3 linked regions of the Homo sapiens genome follow. The protein of the gene in region 1 purifies or fractionates together with the protein of each later gene. This does not show direct contact. Each region holds a gene or a part of one and is shown on either strand. Other genes may lie near its edges.

Region 1 (7,892 bases):
AATATTCATGACAGCAGCCACAAAGGCCGGCGCCGGGTGGCATCTTGCGGCAGCTCCTTCACCCCGCAGTAGACACCCGTGCGTCTGTACCCTCGACCCTTATTTACCCGACGAATAAAGGCGGAGGATCGGCGGCTTCCAATTCTTTGCCCCACGGAGCCCAGGGCTGTCCCTGGACTTCCAACCTTTTCAGGGCTGTTACTCCCTCCCTCCGCCCCCTGTCCTCCCGCAAAACGGGTGTTCTGCGACGGCTTCTAGCCCTGGTTGGGGAGCTCTGCCACCACCGGGCACCTTCCGGACTCCACGAGGTCCTGGAGCCAGGCCCATTCCTTCCGCAGTAGTGGGCTGCGTGGTGTACGCCGGAGGCGCCAGAGCTACTGGCGCACCTCAGAGCAGTGCGACAAGACAAAACCGAGTGCCAGTAACTGAGTTTAGACACTGGAGGGGGCGAATGCTGTCAACCCCCTCCTGGTATAATTGTCAGTTCATCCCAACGCCGCCGAGGTGTAGGCTCAGGACAGGGAGGGACTACGGGGAGCTGGGGATGCCCTAGGGACAGGGACCATAACGAGGTGGAGAGAACTATCAGATGGGCTCAGCAGCTTGTGCTGTGGTTATCAGCCCACAGCTTTGAATGGCGCAAAGAGCAGTGGACCTAAGGCAGACACCAAGGTCTTTGACCTTGAACAAGTCACAACTGTTGAGGCCGTTTCCCATCTCTAAAGGAAGTGCCCAAGGAGCACACAGCAGGCTGAACTTCTTGTTCTCTATCCTAAGGTGTTCCTTCTAATGGGCCCAGCTCAGGCATCTAATCTCAGTGTCCCAAACCTTTAAGGCAGGAAACAGTGCTACAGTGGATCGGGATATCATCGAGACTGGCCTTGAGGATCCTGAAGCAGCAGGCTGTACACATACACCCAGAGGTGCTAGGGTGGTTCAGTGGTAGAATTCTCGTCTGCCAAATACACCACACAGCTAGGTGAGGGGATCCTCCTATAACCCCACCACCACCCCCAAGGGGGTATACATGTTACCCTGGCTGCTAGCAACTTCCAGAATTCCTTAAACAAAAGGGAGAGGGGAGTAAGAGGTGGGAAACAGAGGAAGAAACACCCCCATTCCCCTTTCCTATGGAGGCCACCAGTCATCCAGAAAGCTCATCTCAACTCCTTTGAATGAATCTGGGCCAAGATGGTTCTTGAGCTCCAGCACCACTGGGAGCTGGGGAGCAGTTTGGGTCCCACAAGAAGCCTAGCTGGAGCAAGCCGCCTGGGTCCAGGCTGCCTATCTCATAAAGCTGTTCCCAGGGCAAGAACCATCTGTACCTCCTTTGTTGTCCTTTGTCCTTTATTTTCCCTCTCAAAGACACCCCCAACACACACACAACACACACCCATGGCAAAGAACAGCTGAGCCAGGAGAAGCTGAAGAAAACAGCTTTTTATTTGTTACTATAAGAACCAATTACAGAATCCGAGGTTAAAAAAACGGACAAAAGATCTTTATTTCTGAGAACTGGCGTACAAAAGGCAGAGGGGGAGGGGAGGGAAGGAAAGAGCGAGCGTGGCCTGGGGTTGATGCCAGCTTAGGGGCCTCAAACTCCAATTAGGAAAGTCCGGACACCGGACAGAAAGAGAAACCCCCAATTAGGAAAAAAAAAAAAAAAAAAAAAAAAAAAGACATGGCAGTGCACGCCCCCCTCCCCCAACCAGGTACCACCACCTGTTATCTGTTTACTCTTCCCCTCCCCATCCCCTTTCACAAAGGGAGGCAAAATTTTTAAAAAATTAAAAAACCCTCCCCCCAAAACTGTCCAAGACATCTGTGGGTCCTACCCCCCAAAACAGGCTAGGTTCCCACATGGGCCAAGTTCCTGCAGTCTGTCCTCCATCGGCAAGCATGGAGGCATGAGACAAGTCTCGAGGTGGTAACACCAGAGGGCGCCCAACCCCTCCAGGGACACACACTCACTTGCTCTCTTCCTTAATTCACTCCTCACTCCCTTCGACACGAAAGGGAAGGGAGGTTTGGGTGCCCTGGGCATCCACCCTCTACCTCTCAGCCCACCTCCCTTCCCCACAGGTGCTCAGTCCTCCAGGACAATAGGCTCATTGGTGCTGGCAGGATGTGAGGGTGCAGGTAGAGGGACAGGGGGCCGCACTGCAATCAGCGTTGGCTTCACCTTCAGGGGCAAGTTGGGTCGGCGAGCAGCTCGCCGCATTTCCAGATGGGTCAGAGCCTTCCGTAGGGCCCTGGCCAGAAAGAGCAAGTGGGAAACAGAAAAGGCTTAGAGAACATTAAGACCTCCAGGTGAAGCCCCACACTGCAATTATGCCTTCTGGCCCATTCTTTTCTGGCATCCCCACCCTGCATCCACAACTTTCCTGGAGCTCTTGCTCTGATACTCCTACTCCCCACACTCACCAGCCTGGACTGTCCCTCTCAGCCCCTCCCATGGTAGACGCCTTACCTGGTATCCTTTGTGGCCACAAACACCACAGGATTGGGGGCATCAGCTGGGTTTAGTTTCTGACGCTTGGCTGCTGGCTGTGAGCTTGAACGAATCCCTGAAGCCAGAGGCCTTCCATTGGCAGAGAAAGGAACCCCTGCCCCTGCCATCTGGAAAAGGGGTAGGATGGCACAATGAGGGAAGGGACCCTCTCAGACTCCTATGAGAGACAAAAGCCCACCCAACTCAATCTGGCCCACCCCTTTCTGTCAACTCACAGTCTCATAGGCCCGTTTCACCATAATGCCCCCCAGTCCCCGGTTCTGGGACAGCTGGTTTCTGTTGATCGGTGTCTTGGTACCCCGAGGTGTTTTTGGTTTCAGGGGTGCCTGGGCCACTGGAAAAAAACAGAAAACTTTCGCACCTTTTCTTCCCACGCAGTTCCCCTTTGTTACTTCCATCTCTCTTCCCTGGACCAGCAGTTTACCTGGGCATCCCCAAAAGTAGCAATGGGGGAATGTTCTGGCAAGCTATCACTAGTATTTCAAATATCAGTATGACCTTATCAAATCAGTACAGTAATACTGAATAGTTTACAAAAAAAATTATTAAACAACAAAAGTACAGTTTGTTAGACTAAATCTCTGAGGACACTATGAGGAAGAAAAAAAGCAAGGGGAGAGATGTCAGACAGGGAAAGGACTGGGAGCCTGATGCCAACCTCACTGGTCCCCATCCCATACCCAGATCTTTGACGATAGTTGCCAGGGGCAGCCGCACCAGAGGGTGAATCTTCAATGGAGTCTTGGCGGCCTTAGGAAGTCGAATGGAGCCTGGAGAACAAAGAAGAAAGCTTCTGAAGGGCTTCACCATTCAGGTCTCCTCTAAGGCCAGAAGCCAACTCTAATCTTAAAAAAATTATCTGTGGCCTACTATCCCTCCTGTTATTAGACATCCAGAGAAACAACGGTCTCTGGGCAGAGCAATCCGAAACCCACCACCAGTCCCACCACTCCCTGCCCTTACACTCTGCTTTGATGGCATTGGCATTGATAGGAGCATAAGGCCGTCGGGCGGCCCTCCTTGGCTGTAATAGGTCCCTGCACATGCGTCTGGCAAGACGGGTCAGCTTTGTGGTCTGAAGCAGGAAAGTTTGTCTGTTCTTAGCCAGTAGCTTGGCCCTGTTGGCGCTGGTTGTGTAAGGAGAGAGACTTTGAGCTTCAGGTCTGGATAAATGACCCCTTGAGTGTGGCTCCTAGAAGAAGAGCATAGGAAAGAGAGAGAGCAGAAATCAGCACTGAGGCTCCCTTCTTTCTTCCATTCCCTGCAGGGGACAATTTATTCCTGTCTAATCTCTTTACTGACCTCTTGGCCTATGTGTCTCCCCAACCAGCATCAAGCACCCCGTCCATCAAACCATCACCATATAAAGAGTTGAATATTCTGGCCTTCACCTAAGCTCACCATCAATATGCTTACTGCTCTCCCCTGCTTTTCTTCCCACTGATCCTTACCGTGGTGCCCCGAGTGGCCCCCTCAAGCTGAGTTGGGGTCTTCAGTCCCCCATACTTCTTCCAGTAGATCCAACAGGAAGCACAGAGGCGGCACTGCATGTTAGGTGGGCCCCAGGCATACCACTGAGCAGACTGTGTGGCTGTAGAGTACGGAGAGGAGGGGGACAGGGAAGAAGCATACTACCTAAGCCCCTCAGATTCTTGAGCCACAGCAGGCCTTCCACCCATCCCCACCATCCCAGTGCCCCCGTAACTCACTGTGGCAACTCTCACAAGTCAGGCCCTTCTGAAATCCAGCCCCATTCATGCCAGGTTTTGAACCCACAGAAATGATCTGGTTAGGGTTTGGCTTAGTGCTAACGGGGAAGGCGAGGAGAAGGGAAAAAAACAAGAAACTGGTCAAGGAAAAGAATCAATTTCCACTCTCAGTGTGCCCCTACCTCCTGCCCACCCCCAATCACTGAGGAAGGCACAAGTTAGGGGAAGGGAAGGAAAACACTCTGGTCTCCCCTACCCACCACACTTACTAGGTGGGAATGTAGACCTGTTTCAGTTTGCTGTCTGCTTCAGCAGCTTTCAACCTTTTCTGTAAGAAGGTAAAAAGAAAGAGAAGGATCAGAGCCTCATAGCAGGGAGAATGTCATCAACTTCAAAGGCAGAGGTCAGCAGGTAGCCTATGGTCCACCCTCCCCAGCCCAGATAATACCTGCTGAATATACCGGTCTGTGGTTTTCCACATGTAATAAAACTGGACTATGCTGGCAAGTGACTTCCAGGGTAGCTAAGGGGGGCAGAGGGAGGAAGAATGAGCTGGCATCTGGCCCCAGGTCCTGGTTCCCTCACCTGTCATCTCTCCCACTTCTCCTCCTAGTGCCATCCACTTACAAAATCCTGGCGAATATCATTGAAGTCCTTCCCATACTTCTCTAGGGCCTCCTCAAATAGCATGGCCTCTGAGGCTGACCATTCCTCCATCTCATCCCGACACAGCACCGGGCCTCCCTGGGGTACCAGGGTCGACATGGCCTTAGCCAGGTCGTAGCCGTTCCTTTGCAAGGTATCCATGGCGTGAAACTATGGGGAAGATGGAGAGCAACTGAGGACCTGAAACTTTTGGCACCACTCCCTTCCTGCTCCTTAAAACACTCCCACTCCCGGCCGGGCGCGGTGGCTCACACCCATAATCCCAGCACTTTGGGAAGCGGAGGCGGGCAGATCACGAGGTCAGGAGATCGAGATCATCCTGGCTAAAACGGTGAAACCCCGTCTCTACTAAAAATACAAAAAATTAGCCAGGCGTGGTGGCGGGTGCCTGTAGTCCCAGCTATTCGGGAGGCTGAGGCAGGAGAGTGGTGTGAACCCGGGAGGCGGAGCTTGCAGTGAGCTGAGATTGCGCCACTGCACTCCAGCCTGGGCGACAGAGCAAGACTCCTCTCAAAACAAAACAAAACAAACAAAAAAAAAACACTCCCACTCCCTCAGAGATACCCTCCTCTTCTGTTCCCAGGCTCTGCAAGTCCCCAGAAAACCCAGCCTGCCCAACTACCCACCAACTTCTGCTCACCAGAGTGATATCTCGGGAGGCAGCAGCTGCACTCATGTGCAAGCTTGGCTGCCGAATGGAGCTGCTACAATCTAGGGCTCTTGCAAAGGTTCCCACAGCTCTAAGGGAGAAATTGAGAAGTCAAAAGCGAAAGAAAAGTCAAAAGCCCAAGTGGGCTGGGAAATTAAGCCAAAGGAGAAAGAAGGAAAACATCCATGGCAATGAAAGAAATAAAGTCCATCTCTAAGAACCATGGGACTCAGAACAATGTCCACACCTCCCCCAGCCCATCTTCCCTATCCACCCACCCCTCACCGGGCCACCACAAGAAACTGGTCGATCTGCCGGTCTGTGAGAGGGTTGTCTGGGTCCCAGACCTTCATCTCCATCTTCTGCTGGTTCCGATTATCAGATTCTCCTGGGGAAAAGAACAATGGCATCAACAGGGAGAGGGCAGGGGGGAACAGTTGGTGTCTTTTCATTCACAATAGCACCTCCTCCTTCTCTTCTTCTGCTTGGATTCTATCAACTCTCCGACTTCTCTTCCCAACTGTTCCCATTTTCCCTTTTCAGGTTCCTACAGGCCCATTCTGTCAGGGTCATGGCAGAGAGCCCTGCAGACAGTGCACTGCACAACCCCAGGTGACGCCATTCACAGAGACTATAATGTTAAAGTGCCCCTTGGAATTAGACAACCTGGTAGCCGTACAGTCTTGTCCTGTTGCTTACCCTCTACTAGGCGATCTGGGATCTCAGCTTGGTATTTGCAACCAACTCTAATCTCGCCCTGATCAGCGAGAAGTGTCTTCTGCACGGGGTCAAACACCAGTGAGTAAAAAAAGCAGTCCTGGAATTGGGGAGAGACAAGGTAAGCAAGGCAGCAATCCACATAGGCGGCGGGGAGGGAGGTGTATCTGAGTTTCCATGACCGGCAGTCTGGCAACCCTGTACCTCATCATTGTGCTCCTTTCCCCCTCTCTTTTGCGGGCAATACCCATTCCCCTCGCTCTTCTCTCAACATCTCTTTCTCACCTCCTTTTCCAGGTACTGGCTCAAGATATCTGTCTCATTCAAGAGGGTCACACTGCATTTCCCCCTATAGGAGAGAGATTGGAAAACCCCGGTGAGCCCCACTCTCCCTCCCCACAGCATCTCTCAATACCACCTCCTTCTCTCCATCTTCTACGTAAGTGCACGCAGGCTATGCTGGCCCCAGTTGTCCTGTACCGTATGTGGGTGGCTGGTAATGATTCAAATTGCCGAGAAAGAAAAAGTTCCCGGTGCTTCAGTTGATGGCGCTGCTGCTCAGACACCCCTGGCTGCTTTGATTCCTCTTCAAACTCCCCTGGGAGATTAAAGAGGAAGAAACCAAGTCAGAAATGGATCCAGCAAAACACCACCCTGGAAACTCTAACTCAGGGAAAATATTTCCTATCTTGGCTGTTTTTTTCTCACATTTCCCAGGCGTCTGCCTTCTATACCCTTATCCCACCAGCTTTCCTTCTTAGCTCTATGCCCCATCATAGATGCTCCCAACTCTATCAGTAATGCTTTTAGAGAAGAACTGCTGAGAGTACGAAGAATGCTCTAGAAATACATCGCTACCCAGCTGCCAGTACTCAGACACCAAAGTCCACAACGGGCCAGCAAGAACATCACACTTGTCTCTTGCTTGCTAAACCAGCCTGAGGTCCAGGAACTCAAGATGAAAAAATATCACACAAGACTGTGTTTACCAGTTCTTTTCAATTTCAGGAGACTCTTTGCTCTAAAACATCACATGCAGCCCTAACTATCCCTCATTTTCTACTTGGCTAATAATAGTTCCTGGGGTTTCCAAGGACAACACCTCTCAAGCCAGTGCCAACACCTTCCTCCCCAAGGAGCTGCAGCTTGCCCTGAAACCTAGCGGAAGGGGTTAACCTGGCTAGGCGCCAACCAAAGTGGGAGGGAGCAGAAGAACCTCAGCCCCAGGCTCATTGGTGTATTGTTCCCAACCTCAGGGAGAAGGGGGGGGTTGTGCAGTAGGCTCCACCCCTCGCTTGTGTGCTCCGGAAACCCTGTGCTGAGGCAAGGGGGACCACACCCCCAACACCCCTTCTGATTGGACAAGGCCAAGGTCAGCCCCTGCCAGATGGGGCTGGAAACCCTAAAGGGCCAAGGAACTTGGTAAGCTGGGCTCCTCTTTAACCCCTTCTCACCCAGAGCAGTCTGAAAAAGGAAAATAATTTAGAAAGGTGGAACAAAAGGAAGGAAAAAGAAAACCAAAGCAGGAAAGGAAAAAGAAGCTAAGGAAAATATGTTTTTTAAAAAAAGAAGATGAGACCTTAAAGAGAATGAAGATAGGGCAAAATGAAAAGGGAAAGATGTAAAATGGAGGGGGGCG
Region 2 (8,283 bases), on another chromosome or scaffold:
AAAGTGCTGGGATTACAGGCGTGAGCCACTGCCCGGCCTGTTTTTGTATTTTTAGTAGAGGCGGGGTTTCACCATGTTGGCCAGGCTAGTCTTGAACTCATGACCTCGTGATATGCCTGCCTTGGTCTCCAGAAGTGCTGGGATTACAAGCGTGAGCCACCAGGCCCTTCCCGTTTTTGGTTTATTTCTGCCTTTTTTGGTATTCTCTATGTTTTTGTATTTGTCACCAGCTTTGTTCAGGACTTTCCTTCTGAAATATTTACAGTAGCCTCCTAATTTATCATATCCTTCTTTATGCCATATACTATTTTCCTGAAATTTTTCCTGAAGTACTGCTTTAGACCTGTGTTTTCGCTCCTTAAAATCCATACTCCAAATTGCTTGAACCTGGGAGGTGGAGGTTGCAGTGAGCCAAGATCATGCCATTGCACTCCAGCCTGTGCAACAAGAGTGAAACTCCGTCTCAAGGAAAAAAATAAAAATAAAATAAATCCATACTCCAGCTGGGCATGGTGGTTCATGCCTGTAATTCCAACACTTTGGGAAGCTGAAATGGGAGGATCACTGGAGGCCAGGAGTTTGAGCCCAGCCTAGGCAACATAGGAAGACCTCGTCTCTATAAAAAGTAAAGTTAGCTGGGTGTGGTGGCGCCGGCCTTTAGTCCTAGGTATTCAGGGGGCTGAGACAGAAGAATCACTTGAGCCCGGGATTTTGAGGCTGCAGTGAGCTGTGATTGCACCACTGCACCCCATGCTGGGTGACAGTGAGACCCTGTCTCTAAGAAATCCCTACTCTATGAAGGCCTTCCATAAAGTAGACTTAACTTAGATTTTCAAATTTATCTTTCATCTGGGCCCTTTCCTACATGTTTTTCTCACAATATGCTTCCTTTTTTTTTTGTTTTGAGACAAAACCTTGGTTTGTTGCCCAGGCTGGAGTGCAGTGGTACGATCTTGGCTGACTGCAGCCTCCGTCTCCTGGGTTCAAGTGACTCTCCTGCCTCAGCCTCCCAAGTAGCTGGGATCACAGGGGATCACCACGATGTCTAGCTAATTTTTGCATTTTTAGTAGACACGGGGATTCACCGTGTTTCCCAGTCTGGTCTCGAACTCCTGACCTCAGGTGATCCACCCGCCTCGGCCTCCCAAAGTGCTGGGATTACAGGCGCGAGCCACTTCGCCCAGCCAAACATAAACCATTTATATTTGCAGCAACACTTAACCGTGGAAATATGTAGATTATAAAATTAGATATGAAAATCCTCGGCCGGGTGTGGTGGCTCACACCTGTAATCCCATTACTTTGGGAGGCCGAGGCAGGTGGATCACCTGAGGTCGGGAGTTTGAGACCAGCCTGACCAACATGGAGAAACTCCATCTCTACTAAAAATACAAAATTAGCTGGGCATCGTGGCGCATGCCTGTAATCCCAGCTACTCAGGAGGCTGTGGCAGGAGAATCGCTTGAACCCGGGAGGTGGAGGCGGTGGTGAGCCGAGATCACGCCATTGCACTCCAGCCTGGGCAAGAAGAGCAAAACTCTGTCTCCAAAAAAAAAAGTCGGGCATGGTAGCTCATGCCTGTAATTCCAGCACTTTGGGAGGCTGAGGCAGGTGGATCACCTGAGGTTGGCAGTTCGAGACCAGCCTGACCAACATGGAGAAACCCCGTCTCTACTAAAAATACAAAAAAAAAAAATTAGCCAGGCATGGTGGCGCATGCCTATAATCTCAGGTACTTGGGAGGCTGAGGCAGGAGAATCGCTTGAACCCAGGAGGCGGAGGTGGTGGTGAGCCAAGATCATGCCACTGCACTCCAGCCTGGGGATTGAGTGAAACTCCGTCTCAAAAAAAAAAAGAAAAGAAAATCCTCAGAACGTTGCCTATGACTTCATGTCTTTCTCCCTCAAAGTATATCTGAATGCAAGTGATTGAGACTAACGTAGAAATAATCTTCAGTCTGCTCTGATTCTTGATTTTTGAGACAAGGTCTTGTATGGCGACAGGCAAACACCACCATGCCTGGATATTTTTTTTTTTTTTTTTTTTTTGTTGGGAGGTCTCACTGTGTTGCTCAGGCTGGTCTCACCTGAGCTCAAGCCATCCTCCCTCCTGAGCCTCCCAAAGTGCTAGGCTTACAGGTGTGAGCCACCATGCCTGTCCTTCTCGTTCATTTTTTAAAATTGTTCAAAGCTGCCTTTTTTAGCGACAAAACACTTGGATACTCCATAACTTGAGACTCCAGTGAGTCCATGACAACAAGTTTGGAAACTGTTCTACATATAAAATAATGAATATTTAACAGGCAAAATTAAATGTAGGGCTAAATATTTAGTAGCTGGCTATAAGCCTAACGATGTTTACACTTGCCTTCACAAGTAAGTGTGGATTTTATTGTTTGTATTTAATCTTAATGATAATGTGCAAACTTTCACTTTTCTTCTAGGGCACTGTAAATTGGTCTGTTGATGACATTGTCAAAGGCATAAATAGCAGCAATGTGGAAAATCAGCTCCAAGCTACTCAAGCTGCCAGGTAAGTCTTGTCTGCGATAGCATGGGTAGCCTAAGAAATTTGTGTTTTTAGATTTTTTTTTGGGGGGTGGGGCAGGAAGGGACAGACAGATAGTACAAGGAAAGATTAGGCCAGCCAGCCATAAGCCAAATAGTATTTTTTATTTATTAATTTTTTTGAGAGGGGAGGCCTTGCTATTTTGCCCAGGCTGGCCTGGAATGCCTGGGTTCAAGCAGTCCTCTGACCTCAGCCTCCTGAAGTGCTGGGATCACAGGTGTGTGCCATTGCACCTGCCCATAAAGTTTTTACCAAAGTAATGTTTCAAGTCACTGGCAGGGGAAGGAAGAAATAAATAGTAAGTGGGATTGAGACATGCATTTAGAATGATAGATCCATTTAGGAGATAAGTATAATTTGACCTTTACCTCCCACTATACGTGGATATTTATGATATAATAGAAAGGATTAATAAGTTCTATAGCTTGACAGTGTGCAGAAGAAAAATTTCAATGGTAAATTATCATTAAAAAGTTCTAGGCTGGGTGCTGTGGCTCATTCCTGTAATCCCAGCACTTTGGGAGGCCAAGGGGTCGGTTACTTGAGCCCAGGAGTTTGAGACCAGCCTGGGCAACATGGTGAGAGCCAGTTTCTACAAAAGAAATTATTAGCTGGGTGTGGTGGCACATGCCTGTAATCTCACGTGTTTGGGAGGCTCAGGCACAATAATCACTTGAACCCAGCAGGCGGAGGTTGCAGTGAGCTGAGATCTTGCCACTGCATTCCAGCATGGCGACAGAGCAAGACTCTGTCTCAAAAAATAAATAAATAAAATAACTTGGGTGTGGCGGTGCACACTTGTCGTCCCAGCTACTAAGGAGGCTGAGGTGGGAGGATCACTTGAGCCCAGGAGGTCGAGGCTGCAGTGAGCTGTGATCGTGGCACTGCACTCTAGCCTGAGTGGAGTGAGATCCTATTTCAAAAAAACAAAATGTGCTTAACCACAACTATCAGAACAAATTCAGTGAGAGTATAACCCTGTCAGAATGTGAAAAGTTTTTTTAAAAAGTGACAAGATCTGGAGTAGATTTCTGCAGGGATGGAAAGGAGGGTAATCTACATTAATTTCTGGAAAAATGGTAGTTAATTATACCGCATACATAGCACCATACAAGTAATCTGTTCAGCTTCTCTTAGGTTCCAGAATGTCTCAGCATTTAGTGATTTACTTAAAAGGTTGTCTGAAGTTCTAAACTCTTGAATTGCATTTTATATTGGTTTTTACACAAACTCCTTTTGTTAATCACTGTCAACTTTTATTTCTCTTTTTGTTCCCCTTTAGGAAACTACTTTCCAGAGAAAAACAGCCCCCCATAGACAACATAATCCGGGCTGGTTTGATTCCGAAATTTGTGTCCTTCTTGGGCAGAACTGATTGTAGTCCCATTCAGTTTGAATCTGCTTGGGCACTCACTAACATTGCTTCTGGGACATCAGAACAAACCAAGGCTGTGGTAGATGGAGGTGCCATCCCAGCATTCATTTCTCTGTTGGCATCTCCCCATGCTCACATCAGTGAACAAGCTGTCTGGGCTCTAGGAAACATTGCAGGTACTTGGACTTGAAGTTCTTTTGACTGAATGTATCTAATCGTAATTAGTTGGAAGAAAGGCCTTGTTATAAGTAATAGTGACTTTGTCAAGTTTTGAGCTTGCTTTCAAGCCCTTATTAGGAATGAAAGTGTCGTCTTTACAAAGGCAGCAGAGGGCCATCTAAGTAAGTTTGGGAGTTTTTGCTGGTGCATTCAGTCACTGAAAATTGATGGTGTTGGACAAGGTAATAAAATTAATCTTGCCTCGGCCGGGCATGGTGGCTCACGCCTGTAATCCCAGCACTTTGGGAGGCAGAGGCGGGTGGATCATGAGGTCAGGAGATTGAGACCATCCTGGCTAACACAGTGAAACCCCACCTCTACTAAAAATACAAAAAATTAGCCGGGCGTGGCGGCGGGCGCCTGAGGCTGAGGCAGGAGAATGGCTTGAACCCAGGAGGCGGAGCTTGCAGTGAGCCGAGATCGCGCCACTGCACTCCAGCCTGGGCGACAGAGAGAAACTCCGTCTCAAAAAAAAAAAAAAAAAAATTAATCTTGCCTTTTTTTTCAGGTGATGGCTCAGTGTTCCGAGACTTGGTTATTAAGTACGGTGCAGTTGACCCACTGTTGGCTCTCCTTGCAGTTCCTGATATGTCATCTTTAGCAGTAAGTTACTAACATGAGTAAAGTTACTCACTTCTTCATTCTAATTTCCCCCATCTTCTCAAAAGACAGAACCTCTCATTGCCTATTTTTTTTCCCCCAGTGTGGCTACTTACGTAATCTTACCTGGACACTTTCTAATCTTTGCCGCAACAAGAATCCTGCACCCCCGATAGATGCTGTTGAGCAGATTCTTCCTACCTTAGTTCGGCTCCTGCATCATGATGATCCAGAAGTATTAGCAGATACCTGCTGGGCTATTTCCTACCTTACTGATGGTCCAAATGAACGAATTGGCATGGTGGTGAAAACAGGAGTTGTGCCCCAACTTGTGAAGCTTCTAGGAGCTTCTGAATTGCCAATTGTGGTAAGTTATTTACTTGTAGATTAGGACATAAGTATAAGAAGCATGATCAGGGCTGGGCGTGGTAGTGGTGGCTCACACCTGTGTAATCCCAGCACTTTGGGAGACCAAGGCAGGTGGATCACCTGAGGTCAGGAGTTCGAGACCAGCCTGGCCAACATTGTGAAAGCCCATCTCTACTAAAAATACAAAGAAATTATCTGGACATGGTGGCACGTGTCTGTAATCTCAACTACTCGGGAGGCTAAGGCAGGAGAATTGCTTGAATCTGGGAGGCAGAGGCTGCAGTGACCCGAAATCGTGCCATTATACTCCAGTCTCTCAAAAAAAAAAAAAAAAGCATAATCAGTTGATAGTAATATTGAAATATTGCCTATTTCAGGCCATGATGGGCCTCTTGTTAAAACTTTTAGGGTATAGAATTTCTAAAGTGCTGGGGAAAAAATAACCAGCATCAACATATTTTTTTTTTTTCAGACTCCTGCCCTAAGAGCCATAGGGAATATTGTCACTGGTACAGATGAACAGACTCAGGTTGTGATTGATGCAGGAGCACTCGCCGTCTTTCCCAGCCTGCTCACCAACCCCAAAACTAACATTCAGAAGGAAGCTACGTGGACAATGTCAAACATCACAGCCGGCCGCCAGGACCAGATACAGCAAGTTGTGAATCATGGATTAGTCCCATTCCTTGTCAGTGTTCTCTCTAAGGTAACGAAGTCTTAGGATTTAATCAAGTCATTTTTAGTATTTATAGAAAGCTGTGCTTGATAAGCTTCTTCACGTGCAAGAATCTTGGGTTCTACTAGGAGTCCTTTGCTGAACAATACCCAGTAACCCCTTTTACTTAAGGTTGGATAGAACCTTGGTACTTTCAGTCATTGTTTTTGTGAAAAAGTACTCTTGGAATCTTATTTGTGCAACTGTTCTGAAATAAAACCATTTCCTTATGTTTAATAGGCAGATTTTAAGACACAAAAGGAAGCTGTGTGGGCCGTGACCAACTATACCAGTGGTGGAACAGTTGAACAGATTGTGTACCTTGTTCACTGTGGCATAATAGAACCGTTGATGAACCTCTTAACTGCAAAAGATACCAAGATTATTCTGGTTATCCTGGATGCCATTTCAAATATCTTTCAGGTAAGTCCTATCAAGGTGGCTTTGTTTGAATTTGGACTTGATAATAATCAGTTTACTATTTAGACTTGGGGGAGGGCAGCTGTAAGTTTACTCACTAGTAAGCCACAGAATCAGAAAGCCTGTTTATGTGGCCACCCCTTTGATTAAAAATGAGGCAGGCATTATAAAAGATACAAAAGAGACGACAAGTGGATGGTGTGACCTGAATCGGAGTCAGGCGCTTATGTGGACTCATCACACCTGTTTACTTGGTTGATTTAATTTCCCAATTTCATACCGATTTTTGGTGACATTAAATTTGAATGACTTGGCCAGGCACGGTGGCTCATGCCTGTAATCACAGCACTTTGGAAGTCCGAGGTGGGTGGATCACCTGAGGTCAAGAGTTCGAGACCAGCCTGGCCAACATGGCGAAACCCTGTCTCTGCTAAAAATGCAAGAATTAGCCATGTGTGGTGGTGGGCGCCTATAATCCCAGCTACTCAGAAGGCTGAGGCAGGAGAATCGCTTGAACCCGGGAAGCGGAAGTTGCAGTGAGCCAAGTTTGTGTTATTGCACTCCAGCTTGGGCAAGAGTGAAACTGTCTTAAAAAAAAAAAAAAAAAAAGTTGAGCCTTCAATAATGGATGCTAGCGTATCTGTTACTGTGTATAAATAATTTGTCAGTATGTGGCCAGTATTTCTTCTTCCCCTCATCTAATCCCCTAAGTTATTTTGAAGCAAATCTGTTTTTTTCATCTATAGATATTTATGTATCTCTTTAAGGTTGAAAATTTAAAGGAAAACTAACCTACATACCATTCCATATGTCCAGTAAATCCTTAATACCAACACACATTCTGTTTGGGGACGTTTAGTTTAGCACTCCATAGGCCATCTTTGCCCTTAGACACCTTGACTACACCTTGTGATGACATAGGATGCTTTATGAAACAATACACCCCTGTTCCCATAGCAGACCAGTTGAACTGGAATGTAGTGTTGTTTTAAAAGTTGCCCGCATGATTTTGATACATAGAAAAGGTTGGGAGCTACTACTGATTGTAAGATCTTTGGCTCCAGTTGAAGTAGTGCTAAAAGCAGGTACAGATCCAATCACATTGAGTGTCAACAAAATATAAAATGGACATAAAACTATGATAGGCTTGATGAAGGAATTGTTAGGTGCTTATTTCTGCCTGACGTATCAATATTCAAATTATTGATGTTTTCTTCATTAAAATAAAACCAGAGTATATGCCAGTAAACTTGGATTTTTTTTTTTTTTAGGCTGCTGAGAAACTAGGTGAAACTGAGAAACTTAGTATAATGATTGAAGAATGTGGAGGCTTAGACAAAATTGAAGCTCTACAAAACCATGAAAATGAGTCTGTGTATAAGGCTTCGTTAAGCTTAATTGAGAAGTATTTCTCTGTAGAGGTGAGTAATGGATGGTAATATTAATAACAACTTGGAAACATAAAGTCAAGGCCATAAGCCTTTTTTTCCCTTTTAAAAATAAGTGTCATATCTTTGTTAAATATAGTAAAATATCAGTGTGCATGGGACATAATGTACTTATTTGCCCCTCTAGTTTGGCTTGATGGTAATAAAATCTTTTTAAACTGAGATTTTAAAAGCCACCAGATTAGTTTCAAATGAACAACCTTGAGAATCTTAGAATATCTTGAGGGTAAGTTAACGGGTGTCATTGTAGGAGGTGATAGAGAAGTAGGCCAAACTCATCACCATGCTCTGGGCCTAATACAGTCTTTTCCTATTGAAAAGTGACGGTTGGGGAAGAAAAAAATCTCGGCCTGTTTGTGTTACTGTAGTAGCTAGCATTTATGAATTGGCAAAGTTTCAGAGACCCTCCCTCCTCTATGTCAAATACTATAATATCATACAGGATTAAAGGTGTAATATGCAGATCAAGACCTAGAGATTAAATACAGACTTCAGGTAGGCTGCTGCTTGGAATACTTATATCATTTTTATACTTATTTTTTAATATATTTCCAGGAAGAGGAAGATCA
Region 3 (8,283 bases), on another chromosome or scaffold:
TCAGAGGATATGAGGTAGAGGGTCTTACCTTCATCTTAAAAGCTTTCTTGCCCCCTTTGATGGCATTGTCCTCAAAGGAGAATTCATTCTCACGAATGATGGCCCGGCTGTCCTTGTCACCCGTGTATGTCACCACATAGAATTTGGGTGCCCACATCTGGAACTCCCGCTCCCAGTTAATGATGGTAGAGAGTGGGGCACTCACCAGGAAGGGACCTTTTGTGTGGCCCTGGGAGTCAAGAATGGGGGCAGCATAAGTCTAGGCTAGAGGCCGTATACCCTAGTCCTCTGCCAGCTACACCCCTTTATCTTCCCCCTCCCCACTTCCCCAGTCCAGGCGGTCCCCTTCAAGGTCCTAGAATCCAGCACCTCCTTGTAGAGTGAGTAGAGGAAGACGATGGTTTGTATGGTCTTGCCTAGCCCCATCTCATCAGCTAGAATGGTGTCAGTGCCCTGGGCCCAGGAGAAGCGTAGCCAGTTCAGCCCTTCCAACTGATACATGTGCAGGGTGCCTCCAGTGGCTGTGATAAACCGTGGCTGAGTCTCATATTTCACGGTAGGCTATAGAGACAAGAAGTCAGAAAGCTCAAGGAAATAGTCGGCGGCTCCTCCAGTCTTAGTCTCTTCCTCCCTGGCATGGATACCAAGTTGGATTACAATTCCCTCTACTATGGCCTGAGTTTACAAAAGTTCTCACATCTAGTCTTCAGCCCCTCCCCCTCATTCCTTAAGACAATATCCAGCAGCACCATGGGGAAGGGCCAGCTGGTGACAGAGCCACCAGTGGGCTATCTCTAGTGGCTCCTGCCCTTTCAGGCCAAAATTCTTAGCCACTCTTGGGGCAAGACTGGATGCTGAAGGAAGAGCTACTGTTCACAGAGGTTACTGAATCTCTGGGAAGTTCCATCAGTAGCCCTTGGAAAATCTTCGATCACCATCACTCCAGAAACAAGAAATGACAACTGAGAGGACTCACATCATTAGTGGGAGAACTGGGAGGCCCATCACCCTGTAGCTCCTTCTTCTTCTTCTTATACTTGCGGGGCTGGGCAGGGTCTTCCCCCATAATTAGTTCTCTGGAAAAAGAGTGGGTCTGAATGAGGCCTCATCCTTGGGAGTCCTACGCTTTCTTTTCTGAACCCATTCCAGACCTACTTCCCACTGTCCATGACCTAGATTTTCCCATATTTCCTTTTTCCCAGGCTCTTTACCCTTGCCCTTTGGATTTCACCTCAAGAGCCAGCCCTCCCCACTCTTGAACATCCTCTTCTCCACTACTCAGCCAGATCTTGTTTCTGTTCCTTACACTACCTCTTTAGCAAGCCTATCTCAAACAACCCAGCTCAGGTGGCCATTGCCCTGAACTCCAGGTTGAATCAGGCCCTACTGTACCCTCATTTTATGCTGGAGTTTTGGCTTTCATGCCCTCATCGTCAGAATCCCTTGAATCCACAAGCTCATTCCCTCACCGGTGTCTCCAGTAGCTTTGCTTATGTTCTTCGTATTCAGGGATATTCATTTCATCTTCCTCCCACGTGGACTGGTCATATGGTAAGTCCCTCCATTTTACTAGATAGTGGTAATTCCCCTTTTTATCCACACTGTGGGGCAGGAGGCCATGGGGAGGAGCAGGAGGAAAATATTGCACAGATCACAAACAGAAAGAAGGCCTGAGAAACGCAATTATCAGCAAACACACAAAATTTGTCACCCAACCGTCAACAGTGAGCTGCTGGAAGGGAGATTGGAATAGTTGACCTAGCAGCCTAACCTTCTCAGGATGGTATCCTAAAAATCAGCTATCACAAAACATTCCTGGAGATCCCTCCTTATCATTTGTTCACCTAATCACTAAGTATTTTCCTCATGGAACTCAGAGTCTCGTGGGGAAGGCAGCATTGAAATAACTAAATACATACCATTAAGTTTAGGCAGTAATAAGTACTATGAAGAAGAAACATTCAAAACACTGGTCTGGATGAATTATGTCTCTCATGTTTTGCTTTCATGCCCTCATCCCCAGACTCATGTGCTATGTCTTATGCCACTGGAGATGACAGGAGGCAAAGGACAAAAGAGGCACTGCCTGGCCGGATTTTCCTCCTGTTTTCTCCCGTTCCCCTGGAGGAAACAAGGCCAGAAAGGCTGGAGCTACAGCAGAGGTTATCAAGGTTAGATCAATTACCTGGTTAATCAGCAAATACTAACATGGGGCCATCACCATGGTAAGAATAATGTCATATACCAGGTCTGACTTCCCAGGGACCGAGGATTCACCTGTGGTTGATGATGCGGTGGACGGTCATCCACTCTGGCTTGATGCCAAAACGATAGTACTTCTCCTCCATCTCAGCATAGTGCGGGTCTTTCACTTTACGCTTGTCGCTCTTCCCATCATCCTCGCCGGAGCCATAGTCCAGGGGTGGGGGCTCATCCATGTCATTCTTCCGCTGGTAGTTTCGATACATAACCAAATGGAAGATTTCCAGCTAGCAGGGCACAGAAAAAAGGGAAAGAGATAGTCCTGACACTCACAGAGGACAACAAGGAACCGGGAAGAGGCCGGCAGGAGGAATGGGACAGGGAAAGGGAGCTATGAAAAAGGATGGATTGGCCCAGGCACGGTGGCTCATGCCTGTAATCCCAGTGCTTTAGGAGGCTCAGGCGGGTGGATCACCTGAGGTCAGGAGTTCAAGACCAGCCTGGCCAACATGGCGAAACCCCGTCTCTACTAAAAATACAGAAATTAGCCAGGTGTGGTGGCGCACGCCTGTAATCCCAGATACTCAGGAGGCTGAGGCAGGAGAATCGCTTGAATGCATGAGGCGGAGGTTGCAGCGAGCCAAGATCACACCACTGCACTCCAGCCGGGGCAATAAGAGAATAACAGGCGCGTCCCAGCACTTTGGGAGGCAGAGGCAGGTGGATCACCTGAGGTTGGGAGTTCGAGACCAGCCTGATCAACATGGAGAAACCCCGTCTCTACTAAAAATACAAAATTAGCCAAGCGTGGTGGCGCATGCCTGTAATCCCAGCTACTTGAGTGGCTGAGGCAGGAGAATCGCTTGAACCCAGGAGGCAGAGGTTGCAGTAAGCCAAGATCGTGCCACTGCACTCCAGCCTAGGCAACAAGAGCGAAACTCCATCTAAAAAAAAAAAAAAATAGAAAAAAAAAGAAAAAGGATGGATTAGAGATAAATGAGTCAAAGCCAAGACGGAGAATAAATAAAATGAAACAGATGCAACAGTTTCAGAAGACAAGGCCTGGGTGGGGCTCTTACAAGCAAGAGATAGGGAATGGGATTAGAAACATTGAGAATTTTTTTTTTTTTTTTTTTTTTTTTGAGATAGAGTGTCGCTCTGTCGCCCAGGCTGAAGTGCAGGGACACGATCTTGGCTCACTGCAAGCTCCGCCTCCCGGGTTCACGCCATTCTCCTGTCTCAGCCTCCTGAGTAGCTGGGACTACAGGTGCCTGCCACCACGCCCAGCTAATTTTTTTGTATTTTTAGTAGAGATGGGGTTTCACCATGTTAGCCAGGATAGTCTCGATCTCCTGACCTCAGGTGATCCGCCCACCTCGGCCTCCCAAAGTACTGGGATTACAGGCGTGAGCCACCACACCCAGCCGAGAATTTTTTTTTAAACAGAGATGGGGTTTCACTATGTTGCCCAGGCTGGTCTCAAGCAATCCTCCTGCCTTGGCCTCCCAAAGTGCTAGGATTATAGGTGTGAGCCACCATGCCCAGCCAGGAATATTATAAAACATGGAAAAAGACAGATAAGGAAGGACATGAAGTTAGGAAAGGCTATGCTATATCTGAGGGAAGGAAGCTAACGGAGACTGAGAGAAAGAGGACTGTAGACCAAAAGAACCACATATGGAAACTAAGCAAGTAGGGTATGAAGGCCACAGGCCTGAAATGAGAGAAAACAAAGAGTATGGGAACCCAACAAACAGAGGAGTAAGAGAGGGAGAGGATGGCAGGAAATGAGGTCATGGGGGAGAGGGAAAGAAAAGGTCCTAGTACCTGAAGCTCCTTGGCCCAGGAGCAGTGCCAGTAGGATAGTCCTACCCACTTGACAAAGAACTCTCGCTCTGATCTGCCTTGAAGAGGACGGGGGGGTGGGACATCTGGATTTCCATCTGCCTGTTGAGGGGCTGGCACTGCTACAGGTGGCTCCCCCCACCGCCAATGTAGGATCTTCTGCACTCGACCCTTCAGCACGGGGCACTTTGGGATGGACACGTACAAGGAGGAGGAAAGAAAGAGGCAGAAAGAACCCATTGTTAGATGAGAAGATAGGGGTCCCACAAGGGTGGGGGAGTGCAGAGAAATGAAAAGCTGGACATGTGGGCCCCAGGGATGGGGGAAGGGATCAGGCCTGACAGTAAATACAGAGGGGAGATGTTTCCACTCACTGTGCATCGGGGACACAGCCATTCACCATTGGGAATGTCAGGCAGGGGAGGGTTTAGACAATGAATGTGGTAGGAGGAGATGCACGCGTCACAGCACAGGAGCTCCCCGCCGTCCTTGCATACGCGGCAGTACTCCATGTGATCATCCTCCTCCTCCTTCTCCCCTTCTTCCTCTCCCTCCTCTTCGTATTCTTCTTCTTCCTCCTTGGCCTCCCACTGGACCCCCTCCTTCTCCTAGGGGGCCAAGGATAGACACACAGACAGATGGAAGAAATTAAGGAATGAAACTGGAAGATACAGGCAAAGACAGGACACCTGAATCCTAGAAGTGCAGAGAAGACTGGTGGGAACTAAGGAAAAGGACACTCCAGTTTCAGAAATGTTGATTGTGGGAGAAAGGAATACATTAGGATCCTAGACACTCGGACATCTGTTACTAAGAAGTCCAGCCATCTGGGGGCAGGAAGAGGGTAAGTGAAACCAAGGGGGAAAGAGATGGGTGGGTTCCTCAGGGCCATCAGATGCTGGCATTAGGTACTCACACAGTGAGGGCAGCTCCATTTGCCCTCTGGAGCCCGGTCAAGCTCAGGATCAAGGCAGACGAGGTGGTAGGCACGAGGGCAGGTGTCACACAGAATAATTTCCCCACCCTGCTGGCACACCTCACAGTAATCCTGGTGATCCGTCTCGTAGCCATCAACCTCCTCCTCCCCGGCCACTGCAGGACAGCCCAGGACTGTCATATACCCCGGTGGAGGGATAAGGAAGCAGGGCAGGGGGAGATGGAGAGAGAGAGGGAGAAGGGTTGAAGAGAGAAGTCAAAATTGAAAATAAGAATGAGAGGACGGCCCACTGACAGGATCACACACAGTCAACACTCCTTACCCTTCTTCTTCTTCCTTCCTGGCCGGCCTCTCTTTAGTTTCTTGGTGCGGACAGGGCCATCAGGCCGGCCTGAGGCACTGTGGACACTGCCACTGTCCAGGTCTGATTCCTCAGCCTCTGGTTCAGGACCTTCGTCGCTCTGAAAAACATACTGCCCATAGCCCCGTGGCCGTCAGTGAGGCAGACTTCATTCTACGCCCTCCCCAGGCCTTTGGCTTCCTGTTCCGCCATCCCTCACGGATCCCTGTCTCTGGATCCTTGGCCCTCACGGATCCCTGTCTCTGGATCCTTGGCCCCCAGGTGTTTAGTAGACAGGGACGGGTCACTCACCGAGCCTCCTTTCTTCCTCTTGCCACCCAGAAGCCCTAGTTTTATTTTGAGTGGTGCCATTTTCTTTCCCCGAAGCTTCTTGCGTCCATCAGGCACTCGGGGGCTCTTACTCCGCCTCTTATGGCCTGGACCTGAATGAGGAGTCGGGGTGAGAAGAGGAAAAAGGAGAGGTCATGACATCCTGGAATTATGGAGGTCACAGGGGCCTCTGGATTCCTCTGTGGGCTGTGGTTTCACTAAGCCCCACTTCCTGGAAAGCATCTCTCCTCCAGCAATCAGGGCTGGGAAGGCGAGAGTTCCAGACTCTAATGTGAAGACATGCAGTTTGGAAGGTGAGATGACAGTTGTTGGAAGAGAGTTCCCTACCTTTGCCCTCTTTGGTTTTGGCTCTTCGGATGGGTGGGGGCTGGATATCAGCAGCAGGGGGTGGTGGAAGGGCGGGGGGTCCGGAGGGTGCTATGGGGGTGGCCGACGAGACAGCAGCTGACACCTGCTCAGCTACAGCTGCTGCTGCTGCTGCCGCTGCCGCCGCCACAGCAGCTGCTGACCCCTTGAAGGGGTTGTTGGCACTGAACTCTCTCCATTTGGCCCCAAGGATGGTCATCATCTTAGACATTGGGATCTTAGGATTCTTCTTAGCAATTAGGGGCCTGTAAATATAGAAGCAGAAAACTCGGACCCTTCACAGATGGTCTGGGAACACTGCCATCTCCCCTCATCAATTAAATCTATGTACATGCTAGGATTCCTGGGTGGTGAGAATATGTCCTATTAGGAAAAACAGCCATTTAAAAAAATAAATAAAAAGAAGTTTAAAAAAAGCGGGGAAAGAACAGGTTTAAAAAAGCATTAAAAAAGAAATACAGGCCAGGCACGGTGGCTCATGCCTGTAATTCCAGGCTGAAGCAGGAGGATTGCTTGAGCCCAGGGCTATGAGATAAGCCTGGGCAACAAAGTGAGATCCTGTCTCTACAAAAAATTAAAATAAAAAAAAATAATTAGCTGGGTGTGGCAGCACCTGAGGCTGAGGCAGGAGGGTGGCTTGAGCCCAGGAGTTGGAGGATATAGTGAGCTATGATCACACCACTGCAGTGCAGCCTGGGTGACAGAATGAGACCCTGTCTTTAAAAAAAGGGAAATAGGCTGGGCGCAGTGGCTCACGCCTGTAATCCCAGTACTTTGGGAGGCCAAGGTGGGAGGATCACGAGGTCAAGAGATGGAGACCATCCTGGCCAACATGGCGAAACCCCGTCTCTACTAAAAATACAAAAATTAGCTGGGTGTAGTGGTGCGCACCTGTAGTCTCAGCTACTCGGGAGGCTGAGGCAGAAAAATTGCTTGAACCTGGGAGGCAGAGGTTGCAGTGAGCCAAGATTGCGCCACTACACTCCAGCCTGGCGACAGAGTGAGATTCCATCTCAAAAAAAAAAAAAAAAAAAGGGGAAATAAAAAACAGCGAAATAAAACTTAAAAGCATAAAAGGTTAAAATAAAATCAACAAAAATGCTTTACTTTTGTATACTACTTTACAGTTCATAAAACCCTTTCACATACATTCCACCTTATCTTGTCCTCACAATAATACTCTTGAGTTGCTATGATTCTCTGCATTTTACTAGTAAGTTCCATGGGCCCTGAAGATGGGCTTCCGTAGGACGGAGTGTGAAAGAGTCAGACCATGCTGGTTCTGCTCTGGGGTGGGGTGCTCAACTCTTGTGCGGACACGGGTGATCCATGGTGCTGAGAAAAGCCCCAAGTTCAGCAGTAAGGTAGGTGAGACAACGTTACTAATGACAGTCACCAGTTACTGAATGCTCCCTAGGAGCCAGGCACTGACGGTACTGTGCTTTCCATTCATTATCCCACCAAACCCACACAGATTCCTATGAGGTATATATTATTATTCCCCGTTTATAGAAGAGGAAATTGAGGATTGAAGAAGTTCAGTCACTTGCCCAAAATGTAACCAGATGTGAACCTCAGCAGCTGCCTCCAGAGCACTGAACTGATATGTTAAAGTGCCTTCTCCCCAAAACAAAATACATCGGCACTATTTTTTCTTTTTTTTTTTTTGAGACGGAGTTTCGCTTGTTGCCCAGGCTAGAGCATAGCAGTGGTGTGATCTCGGCTCACTACAACCTTTGCCTCCCGGGTTCAAGCGATTCTCCTGCCTTAGCCTCCCGAGTAGCTGGGATTACAGGCATGTGCCACCACGCCCAGCTAATTTTTTTGTATTTAGTAGAGACGGGGTTTCACCATGTTGGATGGGCTGGTCCTGAACTCCTGACCTCAGGCGATCCACCTGCCTTGGCCTCCCAAAGTGCTTGGATTACAGGCATGAGCCACTGCACCTGGCCCATCTCTGCTATTTTCTACTCTACTATTCTCTACTTTTCTTCAGGAGCCACTGAAGCTCAGGTCCCACTGCCAGCAGTGGACCCTCCATTATTACCAGGGCCTAAGGAAGGGGCACAGGACCTGCTAAGTGAGCTAAGGAAGTTCAGGAACACTGATGGTATCTCTCAGGTCCAGTCTAGAGAGAAGTCACAGAGCAGAAGATGGAGCTGTTGGGGCAGGGGAGGGCTCACTATATTCTGTCCTCACTTTATTCTGTTGCTAAAGAGTTCTCTAACCCAGCACTGGAATC

Evidence for each region. Proteins that work in one complex are often made in the same cells at the same time.
Region 2: the proteins of MTA2 (region 1) and KPNA2 purify together in Homo sapiens (affinity purification with mass spectrometry; 4 studies listed by BioGRID and IntAct, with this or other methods). This does not show direct contact.
Region 3: the proteins of MTA2 (region 1) and CHD3 purify together in Homo sapiens (affinity purification with mass spectrometry; 8 studies listed by BioGRID and IntAct, with this or other methods). This does not show direct contact.

What each region holds. Positions count from the first base shown.
Region 1 is NC_000011.10:62,591,789-62,599,680, forward strand, and holds the end of MTA2 (metastasis-associated protein MTA2), read right to left. Parts: intron 6,852-7,892; coding exon 6,734-6,851; intron 6,603-6,733; coding exon 6,539-6,602; intron 6,354-6,538; coding exon 6,236-6,353; intron 5,925-6,235; coding exon 5,822-5,924; intron 5,628-5,821; coding exon 5,528-5,627; intron 5,038-5,527; coding exon 4,849-5,037; intron 4,745-4,848; coding exon 4,670-4,744; intron 4,550-4,669; coding exon 4,491-4,549; intron 4,320-4,490; coding exon 4,222-4,319; intron 4,104-4,221; coding exon 3,964-4,103; intron 3,705-3,963; coding exon 3,476-3,704; intron 3,283-3,475; coding exon 3,193-3,282; intron 2,847-3,192; coding exon 2,728-2,846; intron 2,620-2,727; coding exon 2,471-2,619; intron 2,253-2,470; coding exon 2,087-2,252; 3' UTR 1,426-2,086; downstream 1-1,425. UniProt on the Homo sapiens protein: May function as a transcriptional coregulator. Acts as a component of the histone deacetylase NuRD complex which participates in the remodeling of chromatin.
Region 2 is NC_000017.11:68,038,235-68,046,517, forward strand, and holds part of KPNA2 (importin subunit alpha-1), read left to right. Parts: intron 1-2,443; coding exon 2,444-2,532; intron 2,533-3,850; coding exon 3,851-4,119; intron 4,120-4,670; coding exon 4,671-4,765; intron 4,766-4,865; coding exon 4,866-5,129; intron 5,130-5,603; coding exon 5,604-5,837; intron 5,838-6,086; coding exon 6,087-6,269; intron 6,270-7,537; coding exon 7,538-7,687; intron 7,688-8,269; coding exon 8,270-8,283.
Region 3 is NC_000017.11:7,891,289-7,899,571, reverse strand, and holds part of CHD3 (chromodomain-helicase-DNA-binding protein 3), read right to left. Parts: intron 6,287-8,283; coding exon 6,003-6,286; intron 5,768-6,002; coding exon 5,637-5,767; intron 5,458-5,636; coding exon 5,307-5,457; intron 5,158-5,306; coding exon 4,964-5,157; intron 4,656-4,963; coding exon 4,422-4,655; intron 4,234-4,421; coding exon 4,030-4,233; intron 2,490-4,029; coding exon 2,278-2,489; intron 1,602-2,277; coding exon 1,470-1,601; intron 1,077-1,469; coding exon 977-1,076; intron 562-976; coding exon 370-561; intron 230-369; coding exon 29-229; intron 1-28.